Linked DNA regions of Homo sapiens. The protein of the gene in region 2 purifies or fractionates together with the protein of the main gene of each other region. This does not show direct contact. Each region holds a gene or a part of one and is shown on either strand. Other genes may lie near its edges.

Region 1 (6,426 bases), on a different chromosome or scaffold from region 2:
ACTTCTCCAACCTGACCTCCAGCTTCTCTTCCACAAAAGGAGCTCCCTCCTGTGACAAGCTGCCATGGTCCTTTCTAGATCACCCTCATACCCTCCCAGACCAGAAGGCAGGTGTAGGATCAGAGTGGGGGGAAGAGGCAAAGGAAGATGAGATCACACCCAGCTGGGAGGAATCCAAGAAGGCTCTGTAAGGAAAGCAGCACTAGAGCTTTGAAAGGTGTAAGCAGAGGATAATGAATACAGATGGCAGAGGGCCATCTGTGGAGGACCCACATCCAGGGCCCATGGACTGAAGATTCCAGGGTGTCCTTAAAGAGGAGGATCGAATACCTCCCCCTGGGAGCAGAAGAGCATTAGGCTGCTGCCCTTCACTATCCAGAACTTTCCCAAGACTCTGGGGCTAAGGACAGGAGCTGGGGGAGGTCAAGTAGAGGCAGACACAGTACAGAGCCCCAGAGAGGTCAAGTGGGGAAGAAGGGTAAAGCACGACATTATTTACGAGGTCTGAGTTTTGCTCTAAATACTGATATTATTGACCATATCAATCATATACACAGTGACCCAACCATGTGTAACCTACAGTCATGCGCTACACAATGATGTGTTTGTTAACGATAGACTGCATGTATGAGGTGGTCTTATAAGATTATAATGAAGCTGAAAAATTCCTATCCTCTTGTGACGTTGTAACTGTCTCAACATCATAGTGCAACAAATGACCTTTTCTGTATTTAGGTATGTCTAGATACATAAATACTTACCATTATGTTACAATTGCCTACAGTATTCAGGGCAATAACGTGCTATACAGATTCCTAGCCTAGGAGCAACAGGCTATACCATATAGATTAGGTGTGTGGTAGGCTATTACCATTTAGGTTTGGGTAAGTATACTCTATGATGTTCACACTGTGATGAAATTGCACTACTCAGAATGTGTCCCTATTGTTAAGCAAGGCATGACTGTATGTGTAAATTCAAAGAAATAAATGAGTATGGGATTCTGTCCTGCTATAGGCAGGTCTGTTGGGCAGAGCTAAGAGCCCAGGACATTGAAGAAGAAATAAAGAGCAGCATGAACCACCTGTACAGAGTCTAGGGTACAGAAAGGCTGAATAAGGACCTACTGTAGGAATTCCAGAAAGTTTCCTTCTAGCAAGGATGGTCAGGCTCCCTTTACCCCCACTGCCCCCAGACCTGGCTCTGTTCGCAGGAAGAACTATAACTGGTGGGTTACATGTCTGTTTCCTTGAGACCAGGGCCTGGGTCACCATCCCCATCCCCCATCTGCAGTGCCCAGCAGAGGCCCACTCACTCTTTCATAATCAAGAGCTGCTTTGGGTGAGGGGGAGGGAAGGATGTCCTCATTCAGGCCCTCATCATCTTGAATCTGTCTTTACTGAAACAGAAACAGCCTCTTAACAGATCGGCCCTCAGCCTTTTCCCAATGCAGTCCATCCTTCACTCCTCTGCAAGTCAGCCTTAACTGGGTCATTCCCCTGCTCAAAAACTTCCCACGTCTCCCCACTGTGTACAGAGTAAGAGTTCAAAACTCCTCACCCTGGGCATGGCAGGCCTTGCACATTCCAGCTTCTCTCAGACAACCTTCCCTCTTTTCTGACACCCTGTACAAATCCCACCTCAGGAGCATCAACATATTCCGCAGGCCCAGCAGCCAGCCAGCATCTGCTTCCCGCCTTTGCTTAGCTTGCTCCTGGCTCTGTGGTCTTGTATGAGATGGGGGCTGAGGGCAGGTCTGTGCCTCGCTCATCTCTGATGTCCTCACATGGAGTGAAGGGAGATTCTGACAGGGTCATCCTGACCAAGTGAGGTGGGACAAGAGGAGGCAGGAGAAAAGCAGGCTAGAGCCTGGGGACACACATGAAAAGCCCCCCCAGACACTATCCACACGAGAATGAATGTTCAGAAAAATTGTCTGAATCACACATACACCGTTAAGTTCAATTACTTTCTGTATTTTTGGGATGGGTGTTTAATTGCTATTAGAAAAACATGTATTTGAAAGAACTAAATAATCAATGCCTGGCAGCTCAATGGAATATGGTAGTGGCATCCCCTGGGGGATGGAAGAGTGGATTCCCAACATTGCTGCTCTGCAAATGCCCTGCCAAAAGGGGAAAGTCGCAGCCCGGCAGCCCTTCGCAGTAGCCAACAGGTGATTCCAGGGTCAGCAAGGGTCAGTTTCCATACCCGTACTCCTGTACTGCAGCAGAATGAAGCAAAGCACATCTGTTTCTGGAGGAATGAAGATGCCACACACAGCCTGCAGTTATGAATGGCTCTTATAACAACAGGATGACATCTGTGCTTGGTTTTTAAGATGCATCATCGCATGTTTATTAAACTATTGCTCCAACATATTTATTTGGCTACAAAACAACTCCCAGCCCATATTTCCAAAAGTGGTTTATTAAAAACTAAGGCTTGAACATTAATACCCAAAAGCACCCTTGAGAATCAATAATAATGCTGCAGATAAAATGAAAGGGAATCAAAGCAGTAAGTCTTGGTGGGGTGGGCTGCTTTTCAACACTTTCTTGTATGTTCAGGAAGCTAAGGTGGGGAAGAACACCAAGGGCCTGTGGCACTGGGTGTGGAAATAGCCACCCCAACACCTGACTTCCTGTCTAACATGCAGACATGATGGCAAGGAAGGGGGGTGTCCTATGGCCACCTAGCTCTATATAAATGGCCAAGAGAGGCCAAGGTTAGGCCCAGTGGGGGGCATAGTTTCAACAAGAATAAGACCTCTGCCCTTAACCAACAGCCCTGTAACTGATGCCCCATGCTGGCCCCAGTCTGAGCATCCATCCTGGACACAGACTCTGCCCTATACCTGGCACTGGGCTGAGCCGAGTTGAATCTTGCCCTTGCCAAATAATAAGCCTCAAATTCAACCTGCCAGTGGTCACTGGAGACTAGCTGAGCCAGTGAAGCTACAGAAATGCAGTCTGTCCCCGGGCAAAGCCAGGTATGGGCCCCTGGCCCTGCAGGCAGGCATTTCTAGCCCCAGACCTTCTGGCAGATGGTCTCTTCCAGCTCTGTCCCAAATCCCCAAGCCTTTCCATAGATGCCGACCTGCAACCTGTCCAGGCAGCAAGCAGTAATACATGGCCATTCCCAAAGAAATGAGCACAAATCAGAAGATTCAGAGAAGAACCCAAAGGATATGGGGGCTGAAGGGAGTCCAAACCAACCCAGTGAAGAACAAAATAGCTGAAGGATCCAGGGATGTTTGGGAGCTGACTCCCTACCGAAAATATCCAAGGGGTGATCTGGGTAAAGGAAGCCCAGGTGACTCTGTGACTACAGAGATGTCACAGGGGACAGTTCCCAGCTTAGGGTAAGGATTTCCTCCAAAGCAAAGTCATCACACGAGAAGAGGCTCGCCCTGCTCAGCCTCTCCTGTAGGGGAGAGCAAGGCCTGGGGTTCAACTCACCTGCTGACTTCTTGCATATTGTTGGCACGGGCAGCTTCCAACAGGGCTGCATCTGAAGAGAAAGGGGGCACTGGTCAGATCCGCGGCCAGGACATACCCATCTCAGGACTGCGTGGAGGGCCCACTAAGACAGTGGCAGTACTTTAGAAACGTGGACTTTGACAAGCAAACTGATGTCACAATATATAATGAGAAACGAATCATTCCCTCCCCACATGGTGTCCACTGTTAACAACCTGACTTCCACACCTTTCTACTACAGAGCCCAAACTCTTCACTCCTCTCATCATAGAGGGAATGCAGGTCAACTGCTAGCACCACGTCTTGCCTATGGTAAATAATGTGCTCTTCATAATCTATGAAGCTCTGCATATGCTTTATGTTCCTATAAGAGTTATTACTAAAGATTCCCTGATCTTGTCCACTTTCTCCCTCAACTCCAGTTCTTCAACCCAGTTCTGAATCTTGATGTCAAGTCATAAACCCAAAAGGAAAGGTAGAATGGAGAGGAGCAAGCAGGGTGTAGGCCTCTCTGAGGATGGAGAGGTCTCAACTAGGAGTCTTTGAGATCTAGCTCCATTCCACTCCCACTACTCACCACGTGACCATGACAGCTCCTCTCTCTCTCAACCACAGCTTTCCTGACTGTAAAACATAGACAAAACTCCTTGCCCTGCCAGCTTCACAAGGATGTCAAGGAGATGAAATGACAGTTGAGACGTCTGCAAACTCCCCAGTGCTGAGCCCAGGGAAGGGAGACCCAAAGCAGAGGAGACACTAAGCCTAGGAGAAAAGCAACGCTAGCTAAGTGCGTCTGGCCTGGTCTGGGCAGCCTGCAGGCTGTTGCCACCACCTTGTGGCCATAAAGAAAATTGGACTGACTCAGAAAAACTCAAAAGTCAACAGGAGAGGCACAATCTTTTCAAATAGCTCAATACCAGGTACATGGAGCCCTCTGTGCCCAGCCTGGTTCTGAGCTACACTGCTGGGCAGTGGGCGGATTCATAGCCAGCCCTGACTCAGGGAACTCTCAGTCCAGCCAAAAGACTCACTCATGAGCAAATGCACTGGAGTAGAGTGAAAGAGCAGGATCTGGAGACAGTCAGACCTGGGGTCTAGCCCAGCTCTGTCGCTTATTTGCTGTATAACCTAGCCCACCTATCTAACCTCCTGAGCCTTAGTTTCCTTATCTGTACAATACACCTTATCATGCATATGAAAGCCAGTCCTGTGGTTCAGACATTGATGCCTCCTGGCCTAGATTCCAGGGACAGGTCCTTTCTACTTACCTTACCGGATGTACCTAAAGCACATACCCAAGCATGGCTCAGACAGCCACCAGCTGGGAGGGGATCAAGCCTTCCTTAGAGATGGCTATATCCACTCTCCCTTCACTCTGCAGAAAAAAATGTGGCTTCTACAAGGTTACAGAGTGAGGAATGAGCTAAGAACCAGGGCCTCCTGGCTTCTAAAAGGGTTCAGTTTCTACCACACTGCACTGAGGGTCAAAACTCTAAGTCAGGGGACAGGGTAGCTGGCAAGTCAGTTCCAGCAGGAACTGGTCACGGCTTTGACCATTATCTATTTTGGTAAATAGACCCTGGTATTCTTGCTGGAGTTCATAGGCCATAAAGTCCAGTTGGGAACCCCCAGGAACTTCTTAGGCAAGACCTCACCAAATACACTGGACTCAGAACATTCCCTGCTCATGAACCTTCCATAACTCTCCACTGCCTACAGAAGAAATTCCAACACCCTCACCTACCCCACCCCTGACTGGCATCCAGGCCCCACTCCATCTGCTCTCATCTAATTCCAAAGACCTTATCCTCCAACCAAGCTGGCTGCTCTGCTGGCCCCTGCACACACCATGGTGCCCCGAAACTGTTATTTCCATTCCCTGAAGCCTTTGCATGGAATATAATCCAACTCTCACACATTTACTGAGCACCTACTAAGTTCCAGACACTGTGGTGGGCAAATGATGTCTAGGTATTCGGGAAAGTTGCTAGTATAACCTGAAAAAACAAAAGAGAAGATACATTTCCTGCTCTCATGGGGCTCAAAAGATCACTCCCCTTTCCGTTTCTACTTCATCCTTCAGAACTCAAGTTCAAATTTCCCATCCTCTGGGGTCTCCAATACTCCAGAAAGGCTTTCCTGACCCTACTGGCCCTCTGATCCCCCAACGACACATAGCACCACTCACCAGCCCTACATTCCAACTGCCTGCACTGTCCCCTTGACTGATTTTGTGTTAAGTTAGGACTTCCCACACACCTAGCCTAAAACTAGACACACAGTGGGTACCCCCAAAAATGCTGGAAGTTATAGGATTACAACATGCCTAAGCTCGATGCCCTTAGTGTCTATTTCAAAACCCTCATTTTGTAGATGAGGAAACAGAGGACCCGTGAGGAGAAGCAAAAGTCCAAATTCACAATGAGAGTTAGACACAGAACCAAAACAAGATCCCCAGTGTTGTCTCTCCCAGACCAAAGTCCTTCCTTTACAATTGGCCACATCAAACGAATCAAAGTCAAGGCACTCCCTACTCCCCAACTCTTGCTCCAAATTCTCAGAGCTTGGGGTGCATGGAATCTATGGACACCATGCCTCAGTCTTTCTTCTTGAGGAACAACTAAGAACCTGAATGGCTGGACTCACATAGGTCATCAGTCTGGCTCTCTGTCCACTCTCTCAGCTGCTGCTTAGCTCCCCGGATCCAAATGAGATGCTAATCGGGATCAGCCAGTCCCCCAGCAGTTGCCCTTGGGCCTCCAGGAATCCACCTTCCTTCTCCTGCCAACTATCCCACATGGCAAGATCACCTCACAGCATGTGAGACCAGACACAGCAAAATCCTGAGACTGACAGACTCAGGCCGCTGAACTCCAAAAAGAGTCAAAATAACAGTACTGTAAAAATGTTGGGAAACTATCCTTCACTATATAAATAAAGAAAT
Region 2 (5,564 bases):
AGGGTGCCGGGGCCGATGGAGTGAGGTGCTAGTGCTGATGGAGTGAGGTGCTAGTGCTGATGGAGTGCTAGTGCTGAGTCTGGTGCAGCCCCACCTCTGGAGGAAAAGATGGCAGCCAGGCGCCCTGTTCTTGGTCTCCAGGGTTGGCCTCCTGTCGCTGGAGCCACCATTATCCTCACCAGATTGGTGGGCAGGTGGCTCTCAGAGCCTCATGCTAGGGCAAGTAGGCCGAGGGCAAAGGCAGGCCGAGTCCGTATGGCCAGGACAGGGCAGAGTGGTCATGGCCTGGAAACGGGAGTGGGAGGGGGCCAGAAAGCCCCTGCCGCCGTGACTAAGACCCGCGGTCCCACAGGTGTGGGCTGTCTCTCCCAAAGTCCAGCAGCCCCCTGGGGGGCCAAGGCCAGTCCTCCACGCCCACTGAAAGGCACAGGTTGGTAGGGCAGAGGCCTGACCCATGGACCCACCCCACAGGGTGGGGGCCAAAGAGCCACACAGTCAAATGAGGCTCGGGGGCTTCTGGGAAGGGACCTAGACCTGAGTCCTTGCCACCCTGCTGTCCCTGCCAGGAATGTGTTGGGGCTCCAGGAAACTAGAGGGGAAGAGGAACGCTAGGCGCAGAAGGGGGAAAGAGGACAAGATCGGGGGCGGGAGGGGAAGGCTTCCGTTCCCTTTGAGCGCTGGGCAGGTCCTCAGAGCCAAGCAGGGCAGGCGAGCTCCGAGTGTGAGGTACCCTGGGGTCCCTCGGACAGCCCGGGAGGTGGCCACAGATGGAAGGAGAGTCCCAGTGGTGAACAAAGCAGGATGTGCCGTGGCTGGGCCTCCCCCGGGTTTCCGGCCAAGCCAGCTGCTCACCCCACGGGCTGGGCCATCTTGGCGTGCAGGCTCTGATGCGCGATGAGGTGCGCGCGCTGCTTGAAGCTCTTGTCGCACTCTCCGCAGCCGAAGGGCCGCTCACCGGTGTGCACACGCCGATGGTCCAGCAGGTAGGAGCGCAGCGAGAAGCTCTTGCCGCAGTCGCTGCAGCCGAAAGGCTTCTCGCCCGTGTGTATGCGCTGGTGGTCGGCCAGGTAGGCGCTGCGGCTGAAGCTCTTGCCGCACTCGGAACAGGAGAAGGGCTTCTCGCCCGTGTGCACGCCTTGGTGGCGCACCAGGTCCGAGGAGCTGCGGAAGCTCTTGTCGCACTCAGGGCACTTGTGTGGCTTCTCGCCCGTGTGCGTGCGCTGGTGCCGCGCCAGGTCCGAGCCCCAGCGGAAGCGCTTTCCACACTGCCCGCAGCTGTGCGGCTTCTCGGCTGCCAGGTCCCGGAACTGGCGCCGGCGAGTGGGTGGCCGCCCCCGTCGCGCGCCCACCACTGGGCCCAGGGCCGCCCTCGGCCGGTTCTCGCTCTCCCAGGCCTCAGCCTCCTCGGGGCTCCAGGACACAGTCACGTCGCTGCCTGTCTGGCCTGGCACCACCGGCACCATCTCCTGCAGCAGGGACTTCTCACTTTGGCCTTTGAGCCCAAAACCTGCAAGGGGAAGGAGGCGACCTCTTCAGTCCCACGCGGTTCTGGGGCCAGAGCTGAGGTGAGGAAGAAACAAGGCTGGGGAAAGCTCCCTGGCCTCCAGGTTCAGAAAGCCCTGGGTTCACACAGCTGAATTCTCAGGTTCCTCATCTATAAAACAGGGATGATTGGCCAGGCGCAGTGACTCAAGCCTGTAATCCCAACATTTTGGGAGGCTGAGGCGAGCTGATCACCTGAGGTTAGGAGTTCGAGACCAGCCTGGCCAACATGGTGAAACCCCGTCTCTATTAAAAAATGCAAAAATCAGCAGGGCATGGTGGCGCACATCTGTAATCCCAGCTACTCAGGAGGCTGAGGTAGAAGAATCACTTGAACCCATGAAGCGGAGGTTGCAGTAAGCCGGGATCATGCCATTGCACTCCAAGAGCGAGACTTTGTCTCAAAAACAAACAAAAACCCAAATAAATCAGGGATGATGAAAAAATTCGGCAGAGCAGCAGTCTGAATAAGCCTCTGATCCCGCCTGCATGGGCCAGCCCCCTAAGCCATCTGTGCCCTGCAGGCCACACTGGGATCCAATGTCCCACTCTGAACCCCAGATATCAAGCTCCACAGCAGAACAGATTTATAGTAATTCTGAAACTTTTCAAGGGCCGGGCGCGGTGGCTCACGCCTGTAATCCCAGCACTTTGGGAGGCTGAGGCAGGCGGATCATGAAGTCAGGAGTTCGAGACCAGCCTGACCAACATGGTGAAAACTCGTCTCTATTAAAAATACAAAAAAATTAGCCGGGCATGGTGGCTCATGCCTGTAATCCCAGCTACTCAGGCTGAGGCAGGAGAATTGCTTGAACCCGGGAGGTGGAAGTTTCAGTGAGCTGAGATCACACCACTGCATTCCGGCCTGGCGACAGAGCAAGACTCCATCTCAAAAAAAAAAAAAAGAAAGAAAATTTTTCCCAACCGTCACAGTCGGAAACTGAGGAGCCAAACTGGTCTAGCTAGTGTGGCTCCCTTCACCACGCAGGCTCTAGTTCTCCAAACTCAACACAGATCTGGACAGAGGTCGCAGCCCATCCTCCTGGGAGTGTGACTGAACAAGATGATCCCTGATGGTGCTGAGAAGGGGCCTGGCATGGAGAGGAACCTGGTAAGTGCAGTTCTGACGAGCAGGGGCCCAGGCTGGTGAGCAGCTGGGGTTCCCCGTCAGCACCCCTGCTCCTAGCAGCCCAAGGTGGCCTCACAACTGTGCCTGATCCAAGTCCCAGCTGTGTCCCTTCAGCATCCACTGACCTGAGTCTCAGGTCCCTTATGCGTAAAATGGGGACAATACTTCCATGCACTAGGTTGTGAGACTCAAAGGAGAAGTTGCCCTTAGAGCAACTGCAGGGCTGGGCAGCGCCGGCGCCGTCCCATGCTGCATGTGGAAACGCACAAAAACTGATCATCAGCCAAGAAAGGAGTTACTCAGGCTCCTGGCAAGACCTAGGGAGAGCCTGCTTTGGAACCAGCTAAGGATGGGGTGGGAAACAAGACTGAAGTTCCAGCAGAATCGGGGGCGGCCAGCCTGGACCCAAAGGCCCTGGGTGCTTACCCAGGGTGGTGTTCCGGGAGTTCTCCCGCTTTATGTCCCAGAAGAGATCCCGCTGAGCAGGGTCCAGGGTGCCCCATTCTTCCCGGGAGAAATAGAATGGGATGTCTCCCAATGCCACAGGTCCCTGGAATGGGGTGAGAAGACCCGGCTCAGGCCTCCCAGCAGCACTGGCGGGGACAGGATGGGTCAGATGAAAGAGGCCTGATGGGACAGCAAGTCCCATTTTACAAACTCAACAGGGCCAAGTGCCTTAAAGAAGACAAAGGGACTGGTGACTCACATGGACCCCAGAGACAAAGCAGGTGTCCGTCGTCTCTCCGGGACGACCCTCTTTAAGAAGAGCAGGAGGCTGGGCTGAAGGAGAAGAATGGAGCCTTAGAAAGGCCAGCCCAGGCTTGACACCGACGCCTATGGCCTCCCCAGCCTGTGCGCATGCACACACGCCCTGGACTTCACAGAGGGAGCTGTCCTGCCTGTGACCCTTAGGGCAACGCCGGTGACAAAGCTAGGTCCCTGCCCAGCCACTCGACTGTCCACAAGAACGGAGGCTTACTCACCGCTATGGCTGTGCTGCTCCTGGGGAACAGACGGCCGCCTCCGTGCCCCCACCGTCGGGGGAGGCCCCGTGGCCTGGGATCCCCGGCCTGCAGCCTCGGGTTCCGCCTCCTCCGAGGGCACATCCTGTGCAGGAACCACAACATGCTCATCAGCCCGAGACCAGACCGGGGGAGACAGAGTTTACTCCCTGGGAAGGAGACACAGGACATGACCCTCAGGATGCTGGGGTGTGGGAAGGAGACCAATATGGTGCCCCAGGAAAAGTCCGGAGGAGAATGTGATACCAGGTAATGCTGTGTGCCCAAGGATGCTCCCCGATCATTCACGAGGCAAGAACCAGCCCTGAAAGGCCAGAATCACAGCCACTTAGCAAGGGGGTAGCTGGGGACCCTCCTGCCAAAGGCAGAACCCCATCCCCCAGCCACTCATTAGAACCTCCCCAGATGCATCCAATGTGAAGGACCCAACATCCCACAAGGTAGCAGAGGCCCCGGACAGCTCCACCTTCTCGCCCCACTCTGGAGCTGGCTCTATGCACACCCTTGTGTCCCCAGAGCCAGGCCTAGAGCAAAATGCAAATAAACATCAGCAGACCCTGCATGGAGCTAAAACCTCCTGTCTGGAACATTCGCACTTCAGCCCTATTGCTGCCTTCCAAAGCCACAAAAAATAAATCACATTTACTTTGGATCGCATCTTTCAGAAAGGCACCCATGGCACACTGTGCTTGTGTGCCTGCTCCTGGGGGCTCTGTGTCTCCCCTACCCTGTGAGCCTCTGGGAGACTTATCTCTGCAGGTTACCCACTTCTCTCGAGCTCAGATACCATCCAGGTGCCCCTGGATGTGGAAGGGCCCCTCACCTGTCGCCAGGCTTTCACTGGCTGCTTCTGTAGGTCCTCCACCAAGGCGACAGCCTCCTCACCGCTTCCCGGGTGCTGCTCACGCACCCAGCCCTGGATCTCCCCTGGCAGCACTGTCAGGAACTGCTCCAGCACCAGCAGCTCCAGGATCTGCTCCTTGGTACGCAGCTCGGGCCGCAGCCAGCGGCAGCAGAGCTCCCAGAGCTGGCTGAAGGCCTCATGAGGCCCATGCACATCCCCGTAGCAGAATTGCCGGAAGCGCTGGCGGCAGGCTTCGGAATCCCTGCCATCCTCATGCTGGGCAGATTCCTGTTCCCAGGAGGAATCTTCCACTTTCACAATCAGAAGCCCTTCTCCCTCCCCAGGGGCCTGGTCCTGGGCCTCCAAGGGGGCTGCCATTCCCCTGGCCTGAGGCTCAGGGTTGGTCGGCTTCAACCTGGGCCCCAGAACCTGTACTTTCAGTCTCCCAGAGGGATCCCCTGTGGTAGCTGGGCTGGCATCTGGATGTGTACTCCTGGGGAAAGAGCAAAATGGCAGGACTGAGGAGGAAGGATGTGGAATACACGAGCAAACCCCAGGCTGAAGAGCCATCCAGTCCCCATCCTTTCATGGCCCTGAAGCCTTTTCTAGGCTTTACTGTAATGCCTTGCTCATGTGACTGTCTCTCCTATTAACACAGGCCCACAAGCTCTCATCCCAAAGCCAGAAATCCAAAACCCGGGTGTTTCATAACTCTTTGACAGCAAAACCCAATGTCATTCATTTGGCAGCACCACCTGACCTGATATAAGCATATTTATAATCTCAATTTATTCCACTAAATGTAAATGTTCAAAATTATGGTGGAAATATTAATAACATATATCTTCAGTTTATAAAATTTCATTGAGCTATACCCACTCGTGTGTTTTTCTGTATTGCACATTATACATCAATTAAATATCTTTTTTTTTTTTTTTTACTGAGAGAGAGTCTCACTCTGTCGCCCAGGCTGGAGTGCAGTGGCGCAATCTCAGTTCACTGCAACCTCTGCCTGCCAGGTTCAAGC
Region 3 (4,664 bases), on a different chromosome or scaffold from region 2:
GTCCCGCCACTCCTTCCCCTTGCATTCAAGTCAGTGAGATGCTAAGATCATCTCTCCACCTTGGTCTATCCCAGGAAACTCTGCCTCTCCATGGAGAGGCAAGGGCCAGGAAGTGAAAGAGTTCCCTTGGTGGGATTATTTCTTTGTAAGGTGCTTTGCTGGTCTTTGGGATGAAGCTTACTAGTCTGGTCCCCTGTATTGAGATTTGGATCTAAATTTACCTCTGCAAACTGTAAACAGATACAAAAAAGCAAATTAAAATTAGTTGCTCAAAGAGTGGCCTTAGAGTGGGAAGGAGATGATTACTAACTTTTCTAACTATTTGACTTGTTACAGTGGAATGGATTACTTTTACAATTTTTAAAAATAGCCAGTAATGACTGAAATTTTAGACAAGACTATGACTCCCTCTTTAAATCACCTCTTTTGTCAAAAGCAACCAAATGATTCCAATAACTGTATACCCTCTCTTTGAGCCTCCAATAGGCTTGGCATGCCATTAGAACAAACAGGAAGGAAAGAAAGGGCTTGGCCGGGTGCGGTGGCTCACATCTGTAATCCCAGCACTTCGGGAGGCTGAGGCGGGTGGATTGTTTTGAGCTCAGGAGTTTAAGACCAGCGTGGGCAACACAGCGAAGCCCTGACTCTACAAAAAAATACAAAAATTAGCTGGGCGTTGGTGGCTCACGCCTGTAGTCCCAGCTACTTGGGATGCTGAGGCTGGAGAATCACTTCAGCCTGGGAAGCAGAGGTTGCAGTGAGCCAAGATCAACCCACTGTACTCCAGCCTGGGCAACAGAGACCCCTGTTTCAAAGAAAAAAAAAAAGAAAGGGCTCAAATATTTGCACTAGGAGTTTAAGTTTGTCCTTTACAGAACGAACAAAAACCTTTTATAAGTGTTATCATATATGTAAGGATTTTATTCAGGGCTGTAGACATCTTATTCTTCAAAAAAAGAAAAGATGGAAGAATGAAGAAAGGAAGTAGACAAAGAAGCTGTCAACACATGTATATGTAAGTGGCTGCTTCTCCTTTGCAGTTAGCTGGGGACGCCCTCTACTAAAAACCACAACTGTTTCTGTAGCCAAGATCAGCACAGGGAGATTCCAACAGGACAGCCACATCCTCCTTCCCAAAGACCCCATCCGGAACACGGTGGGTCCAGAGGCCCTGCCCACAGCCCCTAACCCTGTATCTATATGACAGGAGGTGGGCAATTTGCAAGCCAGCCTCACACTCAGGCCTCATTTGTTGAAGGCCTGGGAGGGCCCGAGGCCAGAGTGATCCTTGGATCTGGCATGGCCTTCAGGCCAGAGCTGGGCCCTGTGTCAATTCCGTGGGTGGCCGACACTTTTCTCTTGCACTTGGGTGGACTATGGACTTTTCCTGTAACTGTTCTGAGGCTTCCACTCACCTCCATGACCTCAGATTGCAAAGGGCATATCTAAAACACAACGGTGCCTGCTGGTGATGCATTTGAAATACACACAGGAAACACAACTAGGAATGGGCCAATAAAGCTCCCTTAATTCCGCCCTGCTGGAAGACTTCACTTGCTGTTTAAATCATGCCAGGAAATAAACTATTGAATGGGTTGTTTTTGTTAGAGACCCATCCTAGAGAGACTGGAAACCAGGCCCTGGGGAAAAGGAAGGAGGAAGGCTGGTGGAATGCTGAGTGATGGCTCCCACCTTTGCCAGAGAGTCGCCGGGGCTGTGTGCCGATGCAGATGCTCCGGCTGTCCTCGTCATCCTCGGGGGGCCGGCTCAGGTCATCCCAGGCACACTTGGCACTGACACCACTCAGGTTGGAGCCATCTGTCTCGATGCCTTTGTCAACTCTCTCCTGCTTGAAAAGAACCAAAGAGCCAGAGTTCTTTCAGAGAACTGGTGACCCAAGGTGACCACCCTTTCAGCCACTGCTCTTACAGTATTTACTGAGCCCTTGTGGTGCTGAGCATGGGACAAATGCTGGAGAGCAGGATCTCTGACCTTGTTCTGCCCTGGTTACCAATGCATGATGGTCTCTGCCAGCTCCTGGACTCCTCCAGGGGAACCAGGGATTAGGGGAAGCCAGGAGGAATGCAAATCCCAAGGGAAACATCTCTTCTACCATCAGCCTTCCAGCACAATGGCCTCTACCTGTTTCAGAGCCCCAAACCTGTCCCCGCCACGCTGGCTGGTGGGGCTGATGTGGCCATGAGAGAGCCTACTTCTCTGAGGAGAGGTGTGATCCTTCCTCTCCTCCCGATCTTCAGGCAGAACCTCCCAGTCACTGCTATAGAAAACAGGGTGGAAGCCTGCCACAGGCAACAGGCCACACCTGCAGTTTCCCCTTCTAACAGCTAGAGGGTGTGGTCACACAGGGAAGAGCCACTGGAGAACAAAGGCTGGACTTCCCTAGATGCATTGGTTCCCTTGTTTAGCAAAGGACTCTGGATGGAGATTCCTTCCCATTTCTTAGACTGAAATGGGGGCCTAGAGTGCAGTGACTATCTGCAGACACCCTTCTCTCCCCATCGAGACCCTGCCTTTGTGCAGGCCTTGGTACTGCTGAGTACAAACACTCTCCAAATGGCTTCAAGGAAGAGTTGTACTCAAAACATCCCTGGATTTTCTGGTAAAACACAGTTCATTGATGCTGGACCTTGAATTAAAAGTCATCTGGAAGGCTCTATGTCCATGTGGGCCAAATCAAGCTTGTGACTGAGCATCTCAACAATAATCTGTGCTTCCCGGCTCCACAGGTACCACACTGGCCTGCTGATCAGCCCAGAAGCCCCATGTGGGAGAAGTACAGGTACTGTCCTTATTTCCTGGGACCAGTCAGCAAGTGGCTCTGCCCCAGACGCCTCCTTCCCATCAGTCATCTCCTCCTTTCAAGTGCTAATGCTGGCCTGGGCAAAGCTGTGGGTTCCGAGCAGGAAGAGGCTAAGCAGGGAAGCGCTCTGTGTACTCTGGGCAGGGAGCATGTATACCCTGGTGTGCTCAGGGGATAGTCTGAGCTTTTTCCTCTGCACTGGCTGCCCTGGGGTCCCTCACTTAGGTAAAGAGTTGCAGACAGACAATTCTTGGCTCAACTTGTCTGGGCTATTTACTTTATAAGTAAAAAGAAAAAGTTAAGACCCAGAAGGCGAGGGACTTATTTGGGCACACAGCTGGTTAGTGTAGAGCTTGAATCACAGGAATATATGCCAGCTCTAAAGAGACTGATAGCAAGCAGGCCCCAGAAAGGCACAGTGAATACAGAGGAGTTCACACTTGGTGCACAGAGCCACCAGGAAAGAAAGCTGTCCTTTGTTCCTGTGGGACCCTGGCTTGCTTTCAAAGACCACTAGGTGCTCCGGGTCCTGTGGGCTGCTCTCAGGGGATCCTGCAGACTAGGAAGAACAGCCCTTGGCATGGAAGGACAGCTGTTTACCCTACTAGTGCAAAGGACCAGGTTCTTTCTTAGTACTTGGCACTTATGACAGGGGCCAAACAACGGCCCACAGTGCCCCATGCTGGATCCCAGTGTGGCTACAGAACAAGGGCTTAGGGAAAGATAGCCTTCCTGGTTCCTGGTTCTTGCATATGCAGAAGATACAAGGAAACCAAGTTTAAAGCAGAGAGAACAGAGGATCCTGGCAGCAGTTTGAAATGTTCAGTGTTAAAGGCACTAGGAAAACAGAGGAGCATCATCTGTGAATGAAGAGGATTTATGCCCAAGAACTCACAAGTCTACAGTGAAGAACTCAGGGGCTGCTGGCTACATGTCCATCTGCCACCTTTCTCTTGCTCTAACACATGGAACTCCCGGCAACTGCCTGTGGCCTACCAGATATTTTACAGAAGCATGGCAGGTTTAGAGATGGCAATGACCTGCATTTGGTCAGGGGAGTAGAAGGAGCCAGACACCAGGCAGGTAACATTATTAGCTGTCTGTGGCTCCTGCTTCAAGAGAAGCCCATAAGAAAGGCAGTTATGGGCCAGGCGCACTAGCTCAAACCTGTAATCCCAGCACTTTGGGAGGCCGAGGCGGGCGGATCATCTGAGGTCAAGAGTTCGAGACCAGCCTGGCCAACATGGTGAAACCCTGTCTCTACTAAAAATACAAAAAATTATCTGGGCGTGGTGGTGGGCGCCTGTAATCTCAGCTACTCGGGAGGCTGAGGCAGGAGAACTGCTTGACCCTGGGAGGCGGAGGCTGCAGTAAGCCGAGATTGTGCCACTGCACTCCAGGCTGGGTGAGAAGAGCGAAACTCCGTCTCAAAAAAAGAAAAGGCAGTTACGTTCTTGTGGCTTTCAAACTTTACCTGCATGACAAAGGAATGCTTCTAAAACAGCAAAGATGACACTGAAACAATGTCCAGGTGGGCCACAGGGAGTGGGCAGCTGCCAGCCTGTGTGTCTAAGGTGCCAATCTTTCCAGGCTAGGAGCTCTGCATCTGACTGTCCAAGATAGAAAATGTGGCGAAAATGGGGATAGGACCATTAGACCAATCAGCCCTCACTCCTGCAGCTGAGCCATGGAGTCAGTATCACCTACACTACTGTCTGGTACAGGGCGGTGGTGGCCGTGGTGGCTCCCTAAAAGAAAGTCTGGGAGGCAGGAGAATGAATACTGGGCAAGCAAGCAATATCCACTACACTTATCTTTTATTGCTGGCAATCTAATTTTTTAA
Region 4 (3,474 bases), on a different chromosome or scaffold from region 2:
TTCTGGAAACCGCGCCTTTGGAGGTCTCCACCTGGCCACTAGCTTGGCCACAAGATGCACGATGCAAGGAGAGCCTGCTCAGAGCGCACCCTCCTGGAGGGAGGGGCCCGGCTGCCAGCGAAGAGAGTGGGGTCAATAGCTAAGGCCAAACCCCCCAGCGACAAGCCCCCTGGCGACAGGCACCCAGGGCCCTCCAGCCCAAGTCCGCCTCTAGGTGTTCTTGTTGGTGTGCTGGCACAGAGCCTCCAATGGGGCAGAACGGCCACCCCCGGGACCAGTCATACACAGATCCTGGCAACTAACACCACTGCCGTTTCCACCGACCAAGTCTTGGGGTGGTCTGTCATGCAGCAAGAGACCATGGACGTAACTGGATTCCTGCCTCACTCAGACACGGTGGTGGGAGAATGGTGAAGCAGTCAATGCTGAGGTCTTTGCTGGGGCTGATGGCGCTGGGAGGGGCCCCCTCAGCCTCTGAAGAAAAAGCAAACCCCACCCGGCCCTAACACCAATTCAACCCAACCTCACCTGGGAGGCTGCTTCCTTGTGGATCTCTTTCCACCAACCGGAGTTCCTCAGTGTCCAGCCTGGAGGCAGCGTCAGGCTGGGAAAGCTGATACCCTGAGTGGGGTTAAAAACCAAAGAAATAAAAGGCATCAACACAGAGTGGCTGATGGGTGTTGTGTGTCGTGGGCCAGCCAGGGCAGGCTGCAGCCCACCTCCTCTTCTCTGTACTGGGACCCCCACCAAGGCCACCTCCCTGTTAGGCCCCTGGACAGTGGAGCAAAGAAGAAGGCGAGGCTGGAAGGGCAACGGGGCAGGCGGAGGCAGGACTCAGAGAAAGCAAAGCTAAAGAAAGACATTGACAAAAATTGCTCAGGAGTCTGAGTCGGGGGGCCTCCCTAAAAGGAGGGTTTCTGGGGCAAGAACGTCTACAAAAGAGGAGACCCTTGATCAGGCCATGCAGGTGAGGCCCTGTATCTGGCAAGGAGGGTGGCAATGTGGGCGCCTTGGGGCCAGGAGGCCTTTCCAAATTCCGAGGCTTCAGTCCTACAGGCAGGGCCTGGGCAGAACTCAGATGTTTAGATCAGAAAGGGTGGGGGCTTCAGCGAATAAATTCAAGCTCCAACACGTGCAAGTTCAAATCCTGTAAGACATCACAGTGTCCCAGCCAAAGTCCCTGGGGTCACAGTCTCCTGCACCAACCCCTGCGGAAGGGGATGGGGAGTGGGGCGTGACCCCGAGGCAGGCGACTCTCACCCCACAGGAGCAGCTTCCGGTAGCTCTTCAGGTTCTCCTCGGCAGGGTCCAGGTGGCCCCACTCCCCCAGGTGCTGAGGGTCCTCTGGAAAGGACTTCAGCTTCTGAAACATTAGTCGTGGCTGAGACCTCCCACCTGCCCTAGAGAAGGGAGGACCCGCCGCAGCCCCACAGCCACAGGAGCAGGCTAGGAGCCAGCCCTGGCCAGGGACTCTAACCCAGGTGCACTGCAGGAGGCAGCCCCCTTCGCACCACAAAGATTCCGCCCTCACGCTCCCACCAGGGTGGGTTCTGGGCCTCAGCGCTGTGGACGTTTGGGGCCACAGCCCTCTGCTGAGCACTGGTGATGGGGAGGGGGATGCCTCTAAGCTGAGGCCAAGGCCCCTCACCCACCTGCTCGTGCCCACCCACCTGCTCGGTGTTGGCAGGGCCGTCCTCTTCGGTCTTTGCTTCTCTGACCCTCCTCTGTTCCAGAAACAGGGGGTCCGGAGAAAGCCAGGCTGGGGAGAAGGAGAGGCAGAGCTGAGGCAATGAGCTCCCTGTGGCCAGGTGCCCTCAAGGGTCAAGGAGCCCCCGCTGCCTCCCACACAGGCCCCAGTGTGCTTCTGTGACAGCAGCACCCAAGGCTCAACGGACACTACACCTTTCCCTGATTTACAAAGCAGCGCGGTGGCCACAGGGCTTGGGTGGCCCCAGAGATGCCCATTCAAGTCCACTGGATTCATGGAAATCTTTTTTTTTTTTGGTTTGTTTGTTTTTTAAAGACAGGGTCTTGCTCTGTCACCTAGGCTGGAGTGCAGTGGCATGATCTTGGCTCACTGCAACCTCCACCTCCTGGACTCAAGCAATCCTCCCACCTCAGCCTCCCAAGTAGCTGGGACTAAAAGTGCGGACCCGGCTAATTTTTGTATTTTTTGTAGAGATGGGGTCTCCCTATGTTGCCCAGGCTGGTCTCGAATGCCCGGGCTCAAGTGATCTGCCCGCCTTGGCTTCCCAAAGTGCTGCGATTACAGGCATGAGGCACTGTGCCTGGCCTTCGTGGAAATCCTAAAAAGCAACACCACATAGTGCTGGGCTGTATCCAGGCCAGTGGGCACCTTCCGTGCTGGTAATGAACAGCCACAAAACTTCTGGAAAACCACATGGAAGTTTCTATTTTATGTGAAATGTCGAACTCACACACCACTTGCCCAGTGGTCCTGAGGAGTCCACCCACAGTGCCCAGAGCCTCACATATGGGCACACAAGTCAGGAGGTGTCAGGGCAGCTTCACTCCAAGGGGCAGAGAGCCCACCTCTAGGATGGGGATGGGCTGAGCACGCGATGCTGGGCAACTAAAGAACCAGACCCAACCACAGCCTGGGGGACCCACCCCTCGAACAGCAAGCACTCAGACACAGCACACCACACACACAGAGCCCGACCCCAGGCCCTGATTATGCATGTGTGATGTGCAGGGAGACATGAGGGGACGTGCATCAGGACACTTGAGACCCTTTATTTTCAGAGGGTTCATGGTCGGGGGTTGGGAGATTCTTTTCTTTATGTATTGATGTTTCTTCACTATTTGTGGTAAGTATGGATGATCTGCATAATCTCTGAAGACTAATTTAATAAACAATGTCTAACATTCAGAGAAACTACAGGAGGAAGTCCCAATGATAGCATGGACCATGGAGCCCCTGACTCCCTGGCTGCCCTTCTGCCCTCTCCCAACCACAGGCCTCTGCCCAACACCCCACCTAAGGCCCAGCAGAGGCTGCCAGGCTAGCTGGGCACTCACGTGTCTCAGAAGGTGCCGGGATCTCCCCAGCTCCAAGGGCCTGGCTGGGGCTCGCGAGCTCGCCTGGTAGCAGCAGAGGGTCCATGTGCCTCTCGTACACTCCATCGCTAAGAATTGAGGATGAGCCCGCAGGGGAGCCCAGCAGCATCCCTGTCAACAGTGGAGGGACCTGTGACCCCAAGAGGTCAGGACACGTGCCAACAACAATCACACAGTTAAACCACAGGGACCTGCAGGCTCCAGGGCCACATCACTACCCATCCTGCACCTCATCTTGGACCAGGAGACCTCCAGCCTGCAAAGTACCCAGAATATTTACTGTTAAGAGGCTGGGGGCCGGGCGCGGTGGCTCACGCCTGTAATCCCAGCACTTTGGGAGGCCGAGGCGGGCGGATCACGAGGTCAGGAGATCGAGGCCATCCCGGCTAAAAC
Region 5 (6,426 bases), on a different chromosome or scaffold from region 2:
GCACACCCCTTCATCTTCACAGGGAGATGGGGGATCAGCACACACCTTCATCTCCACAGGGGGACGGGGATCAGCACACACCATCTCCACAGGGGGACAGGGGATCAACACACCCCTTCATCTCCACATGGGGATGGGGGATCAGCACACACCTTCATCTCCACAGGGGGATGGGGATCAGCACACGCCTCCATCTCCACAGGGGCGCGGGGGATTGGCACACCCCTTCATCTCCACAGGGAGATGGGGGATCAGCACACACCTTCATCTCCACAGGGGGACGGGGGATCAGCACACCCCTTCATCTCCACAGTGGGACAGGGGATCAGCATATCCCTTCATCTCCACAGGGGGATGGGGATCAGCACACACCTTCATCTCCACAGGGAGATGGGGGATCAGCACGCACCTTCATCTCCACAGGGGCACGGGGGATCAGCACACACCTTCATCTCCACAGGGGGACGGGGGATCAGCACACACCTTCATCCAGACAGGGGCATGAGGAATCAGCACACACCTTCATCTAGACAGGGGGATGGGATGGGGGATCAGCACACACCTCCATCTCCACAGGGGCACGAGGGAGCAGCACACACCTCCATCTCCACAGGGCACAGGGGATCAGCACACACCTCCTTCTCCACAGGGGCACAGGCAATCAGCACATACCTTCATCTAGACAGGGTGACGGGCGATCAGCACACACCTCCATCTCCACAGCAGCAGGAGGAATCAACACACACCTTCATCTCCACAGGCGGACGGGGGATCAGCACACACCTCCATCTCCACAGGGGCACGGGAGCCCGACTCCCCACTCCCCTCGGGGACACGTAGTGGGCGTGTGTTAAATCCCACGGAAGCAAGCTCTGGTCACTCAGCATTGGTACAGCTCTGTATTATTTGTCTTGGAAAATCTTGATTTCTGGTATCAAAGATCCTACTTTGAAAATAAACCAACGTACTGGTGGCATCGTGTAATTAAAATTGCTTAATTTTGCTGGCTTGAAATGCAGGATGAAATTTAGCATGCATGTAATTTTAGCAATGTTTAAAAAGTATACTTTCCCCAAAGTGCTTTTTCAAAAGCCTTAGAAAGCAAGCACGTATTTCTTCAACTGTAGTGAATTTGAAGCTACTTTAAACCAGGCTTACTGGATGGCAGCAATTTTGGTTCTTCCTTGCAATTTTCTTTCTCAGAGGTGGCCTCGGTTCTGGCTTTTCCCAGACCTTACCTGGTGTATCTGATGGGCTACTTCTACAGAAACACAGCGGGCAGCAGCTTGGGGACAGAAATGCTGCACACATACCCCCACGCTGCCAAAGAAGGACACACATTTCTCAAACAGTTAGTTCCAAAGAAGAACCCTGCATAACTTCATTCTATGCAATAAAATTAAATAAAAAGACAATACTTCTGTTTGGATTTAAAAACACTTTATAGTGTGTTGTTTTTATTGAGCGCTCACACCCGAAGGGGTGGCGGCGGATGCTGTGGGTGAGTGGGGCCGCCTGAGCCTGCTCGGGCCACATCCACACATCCACAGAGTCCACCTGGACTCGGAGGAAGGCCGAGAGGACACGGACGGTGGCCACACCACGCTGCAGTGAAGGCCCAAGTGTGATGGCAGAGAAAGAGGGAAAGTTGGAGAAAGAGCGGTATCTGACAATAACTTTTCTCTTGGATGTTAATTTTTTGGTCTATAAATTGGAAAGGAAGGCTCGGACTGAAATAAATACATTTATTCTGAGTAATGACCTTTTGGGAGCAGTGTCCGTCAACTCTGCTTCGAGAGCGTCTCCACGTGAGCAGCAGCGCCTGTCTCGCGCCTCGCCGAGGCGGAACCACACCGGGCCTCCAGCGGAGGCGGCTTTCTCCTGTGTCTGTGAAGGGAAGTAGCAGGTGCGTCACTGTTCTTAATGGAGCGGACAATGATGCCTTTTCTCTGACAGAAAAATGTCCGGCTTAACTATGCAAGACAAGACTTGGTCCTCACGTTCGCGTCTCTAGTTGATTTTGTCCTGGAATATGTACAAGTTATTGGTGGCAGCCACGGCAATGACATTGTCCACGGGGTGCCAGGCTGTGTGCAGGATCTTCTTGTTGAAGTCCAGACTGTCCACACTGATCTCGTCTTTCCTCCGCTTACCCCCCGTACACACCTTCCGGGGTTTGAGGCTGGCGCGCGGTTTGCTGCTCTCTCTCGAGGCCTCCAGGGTCACATCCCTCCGCGTGTCTCTATCAAACATCCTGAAGAAGTTGTTATAGGACCCGGTCATGATGGCGCTGTTCAAAACAAGAGCAGACAGCAGCACTCCTCAGTGGGGGGAGCGGCAGCAAGGACTCAGACCCCACCCCTGGGGTGCACAGCGCACGCCACCCTCCCCCACAACCCAGTTACTTTCAGAAATCAGGAATGATCAATCACAATGGGCAGAAGAGAAATGCAGTGAAAATGTGTACCGAGCTTTATCTATAATCATGTCAGTAAGAATCCATGTCACAGGAGAAACAAAATAATGGAGTCACACTTTTAACATTAGTGTATTTTTTGAAACAACCCCACCTATTTATCTCACTCATGAATAACAGCACAGTTTATTTTTAAGCCTTATGTTCTGCAATTTGTCAATGATCCATAATGACCTGAACATAATCCTTATCATGTTCAACAGTTACTAGTCATATCTGTCAATGTTTCTTTGGAGTTAAACTGCTTTTCTATTAATTTCAAAAAGTTTCTTTCAAATGAGGCAACGGATAGAAATAGTAAAAATCCACTGGGCAAAGTGTGGCAGAATTTTAGAACAACTGCATTTCACACACATTCCAGACAATACAATACCGTCCATGCTTTTGTTTCTTCAAGATCAACTGTAATGGCTTTCAAATGTCTCTGCTGTCGAAAAATTCTACTACCGCACACATCCTCATGATATAACTTCATAATACTGGTAAAAACCTCTGCAATCTTACATTTTCTACAAAAATGACAGAAAAATAGCTGAATGATGCAAACGCTGCCATGATTTGACCCATGGCTTCATGAGTCCAGTTTCTGATGAAAGATGTGTTCAAACAATGCCCTTCTGGTTTCTCCAGCCGTCCTTGAAGCTCGCCTCCTCTTCCTATTTTGACACTAACCCGCGCCCTCACGTCCTGCCCCCATGGTCATGCGCGGTGAGAGGCCTTTCACGCTGGCGCGTCTTCAAGGTGCCATGAGAAAGAAGCGGGCCGCTTCCCTTCCATGGCCCAGCACTGACCCTGGCTGCTGGCAAATACCTAGTGTCTGACTGACCTTGTCTAAAACTTCAAAGCAGGGGAAAAAAAAAAAAAAAAGACGAACTCAGAGAAGAGAAACTGCATTCAGCGATCCATGTTTATTTCCCATCTCCTGCTTCCATCCAGGAGCCCACAGCGCCACAGAGGCGGGAGACACAAGGTGTGCCCAGCGCCCTCCAGCAATGCCAAGCTGTGCACGTGGTCTTGGAACAGGGGTATGCAGCCAAGTTGGCACGTGAGGGCCATTGACTGGGGGTTCCCCAAATTAGTTTCCACATAAAACACAATGTTTACGAAAGGGTAAGTAATAAGAATGTGTGAATCTGAAGCTTACATTTATGTTATTAAAACTCAACAGTAACCATTATTCAGAACACAGACGACAGATGATGTATGGCCGACACTGACTGGAATTGCTGGTGCATGGTAATAACGAAAAGCACATCAGCTTTCATACAGATTTATGATCACTTTTAAATTCTCGACAGATAGTGCCAGCCCCAGAGTGGGTGTTTCCACACTGCAAACAAGGGCGCTGCCCAGCAGCCTGGTGCTGGCCCAGGAAGGGAACAGCACAGACAGAGACACAGGCGTAAGCACATAACTGGTTCTGTGGGGCGACCTAGAACACAAGAAGGCGCTGCCACACGGAGAATCAGGATTGGGCTGAGGCAGCACTGAAACGCCTCACTCCCCTTCATCGCATCCCTCAACAGAAGTTTCCAGGTAGGAAGACTGGCGTGTTTTTGAGAGTGAATGGACTAAGCAAATGTTACTGGGAACGCTTTTAGATGTTCTTGGGGATATGTAATCTAAGGGTATTTTGCAATATTTGAAATATATCAAGAGGAATAAAAAATACAGTGACTATCCATGTACCCGCAAGTCACTGCTAAGACAGTGAACCCCCCGCACACTCGCAAGTCACTAAGACAGTGAACCCCCGCACACCAGCAAGTCACTAAGACAGTGACCCCCCCACACACCCGCAAGTCACTGCTAAGACAGTGAACCCCCCGCACACTTGGAAGTCACTAAGACAGTGAACCCCTGCACACCCGCAAGTCACTAAGACAATGAACCCCCGCATACCCGCAAGTCACTGCTAAGACAGTGACCCCCACACACACAACCACAAGTCACTGCTAAGACAGTGAAACCCCCTGCACACCTGCAAGTCACTAAGTGAACCCCCCGCACACCCACAAGTCACTAAGACAGTGAACCCCCGCACACCTGCAAGTCACTGCTAAGACAGGGACCCCCCGCAAGTCACTGCTAAGACAGTGAACCCCCCACACACCTGCAAGTCACTGCTAAGTGAACCCCCCGCACAACTGGAAGTCACTAAGACAGTGAACCCCCGCACACCTGCAAGTCACTAAGACAGTGAACCCCCGCATACCTGCAAGTCACTGCTAAGACAGGGACCCCCCCGCAAGTCACTGCTAAGACAGTGAACCCCCCCACACACAACCGCAAGTCACTGCTAAGACAGTGAAACCCCCCGCACACCCGCAAGTCACTAAGACAGTGAACCCCCGCAAACCTGCAAGTCACTGCTAAGACAGGGAACCCCCGCAAGTCACTGCTAAGACAGTGAACCTCCCACACACACCCGCAAGTCACTGCTAAGACAGTGAAACCCCCTGCACACCCGCAAGTCACTAAGACAGTGAACCCCCTGCACACCCGCAAGTCACTAAGACAGTGAACCCCCGCACACTCGCAAGTCACTGATAAGACAGGGACCCCCCCCGCAAGTCACTGCTAAGACAGTGAACCCCCCACACACACCCGCAAGTCACTGATAAGACAGGGACCCCCCCCGCAAGTCACTGCTAAGACAGTGAACCCCACACACACACCCGCAAGTCACTGCTAAGTGAACCCCCTGCACACCCGCAAGTCACTAAGACAGTGAACCCCCCGCACACCCGCAAGTCACTAAGACAGTGAACCCCGCACACCCGCAAGTCACTAAGACAGTGAACCCCCACACACCCGAAAGTCACTAAGTGAACCCCCCCGCACACCCGCAAGTCACTAAGACAGTGAACCCCCCGCACACCCGCAAGTCACTAAGACAGTGAACCCCCCGCACACCCGCAAGTCACTAGTGAACCCCCCGCACACCCGCAAGTCACTAAGACAGTGAACCACCCGCACACCCACAAGTCACTAAGACAGTGAACCCCCCCGCACACCAAGTCACTAAGACAGTGAACCCCCGCACACCCACAAGTCACTGCTAAGACAGTGAACCCCCGCACACCCGCAAGTCACTAAGACAGTGAACCCCCGCACACCCGCAAGTCACTAAGACAGTGAACCCCCCCCACACATGCAAATCACTAAGACAGTGAACCCCCCGCACACCCGCAAGTCACTAAGACAGTGAACCCCCGCACACCCGCAAGTCACTGCTAAGACAGGGACCCCCCAAGTCACTGCTAAGACAGTGAACCCCCCCGCACACCCGCAAGTCACTGCTAAGACAGTGAAACCCCCTGCACACCCGCAAGTCACTGCTAAGACAGTGAACCCCCCCGCACACCCGCAAGTCACTGCTAAGACAGCGAACCCCCCTGCACACCCGCAAGTCACTGTTAAGACAGGGACCCCCTGCAAGTCACTGGTAAGGTGGTGAACCCCCTGCACACCCGCAAGTCACTGCTAAGAGAGTGACCCCTCTGCACACCAGCAAGTCACTGCTAAGACAGGGACCCCCCTGCACTGTGTTGCCACTCTGGAAAGAAAGATGGTCTCCTATCCCATCCCCAGTTGGGGTCCTCACTTGCTAGAGTACATATGTGTCATCCCCACACACATTTATATTTTGTATACAGATTTTTTTTGTTTTTTTTTGAGACAGAGTCTCACTCTATCGCCCAGGCTGGAGTGCAGTGGCACAATCTCAGCTTACTGCAACCTCCACCTCCAAGGTTCAAGCGATTCTCCTGCCTCAGCCTCCTGAGTGGTGGGATTAAAGGCATGCACCACCATGTCCGGCTAATTTTTGTATTTCTAGTAGAGATGGGGTTTCACTATGTTGGTCAGGCTGCTCTCGAACTCCTGACCTCGTGATCCGCCCTCCTCAGCCTCCCAAAGTGCTGGGATTACAGGTGTGAGCCACTGCG

What was found.
Region 1: the proteins of ZNF213 (region 2) and CLPB purify together in Homo sapiens (co-immunoprecipitation; one large-scale study listed by IntAct). This does not show direct contact.
Region 3: the proteins of ZNF213 (region 2) and SUFU purify together in Homo sapiens (co-immunoprecipitation; 2 studies listed by BioGRID and IntAct, with this or other methods). This does not show direct contact.
Region 4: the proteins of ZNF213 (region 2) and ZSCAN18 purify together in Homo sapiens (affinity purification with mass spectrometry; one large-scale study listed by BioGRID and IntAct). This does not show direct contact.
Region 5: the proteins of ZNF213 (region 2) and PPP2R2D purify together in Homo sapiens (affinity purification with mass spectrometry; one large-scale study listed by BioGRID and IntAct). This does not show direct contact.

What each region holds. Positions count from the first base shown.
Region 1 is NC_000011.10:72,426,851-72,433,276, forward strand, and holds part of CLPB (mitochondrial disaggregase), read right to left. Parts: intron 3,514-6,426; coding exon 3,462-3,513; intron 1-3,461. UniProt on the Homo sapiens protein: Functions as a regulatory ATPase and participates in secretion/protein trafficking process. Has ATP-dependent protein disaggregase activity and is required to maintain the solubility of key mitochondrial proteins.
Region 2 is NC_000016.10:3,136,632-3,142,195, reverse strand, and holds part of ZNF213 (zinc finger protein 213), read right to left. Parts: exon of another isoform or gene 5,108-5,564; coding exon of another isoform or gene 4,916-5,107; coding exon 4,517-4,915; intron 3,843-4,516; exon of another isoform or gene 3,779-3,842; coding exon 3,655-3,778; intron 3,452-3,654; coding exon 3,378-3,451; intron 3,222-3,377; coding exon 3,098-3,221; intron 1,561-3,097; coding exon of another isoform or gene 1,508-1,560; coding exon 849-1,507; 3' UTR 1-848. UniProt on the Homo sapiens protein: May be involved in transcriptional regulation.
Region 3 is NC_000010.11:102,594,322-102,598,985, reverse strand, and holds part of SUFU (suppressor of fused homolog), read right to left. Parts: intron 1,850-4,664; coding exon of another isoform or gene 1,847-1,849; coding exon 1,693-1,846; intron 1-1,692. UniProt on the Homo sapiens protein: Negative regulator in the hedgehog/smoothened signaling pathway. Down-regulates GLI1-mediated transactivation of target genes. Down-regulates GLI2-mediated transactivation of target genes. Part of a corepressor complex that acts on DNA-bound GLI1.
Region 4 is NC_000019.10:58,085,646-58,089,119, forward strand, and holds part of ZSCAN18 (zinc finger and SCAN domain-containing protein 18), read right to left. Parts: intron 3,193-3,474; coding exon 3,043-3,192; intron 1,760-3,042; coding exon 1,671-1,759; intron 1,364-1,670; coding exon 1,261-1,363; intron 622-1,260; coding exon 529-621; intron 1-528. UniProt on the Homo sapiens protein: May be involved in transcriptional regulation.
Region 5 is NC_000010.11:131,951,548-131,957,973, reverse strand, and holds part of PPP2R2D (serine/threonine-protein phosphatase 2A 55 kDa regulatory subunit B delta isoform), read right to left. Parts: intron 2,291-6,426; coding exon 2,011-2,290; 3' UTR 1-2,010. UniProt on the Homo sapiens protein: Substrate-recognition subunit of protein phosphatase 2A (PP2A) that plays a key role in cell cycle by controlling mitosis entry and exit. Involved in chromosome clustering during late mitosis by mediating dephosphorylation of MKI67.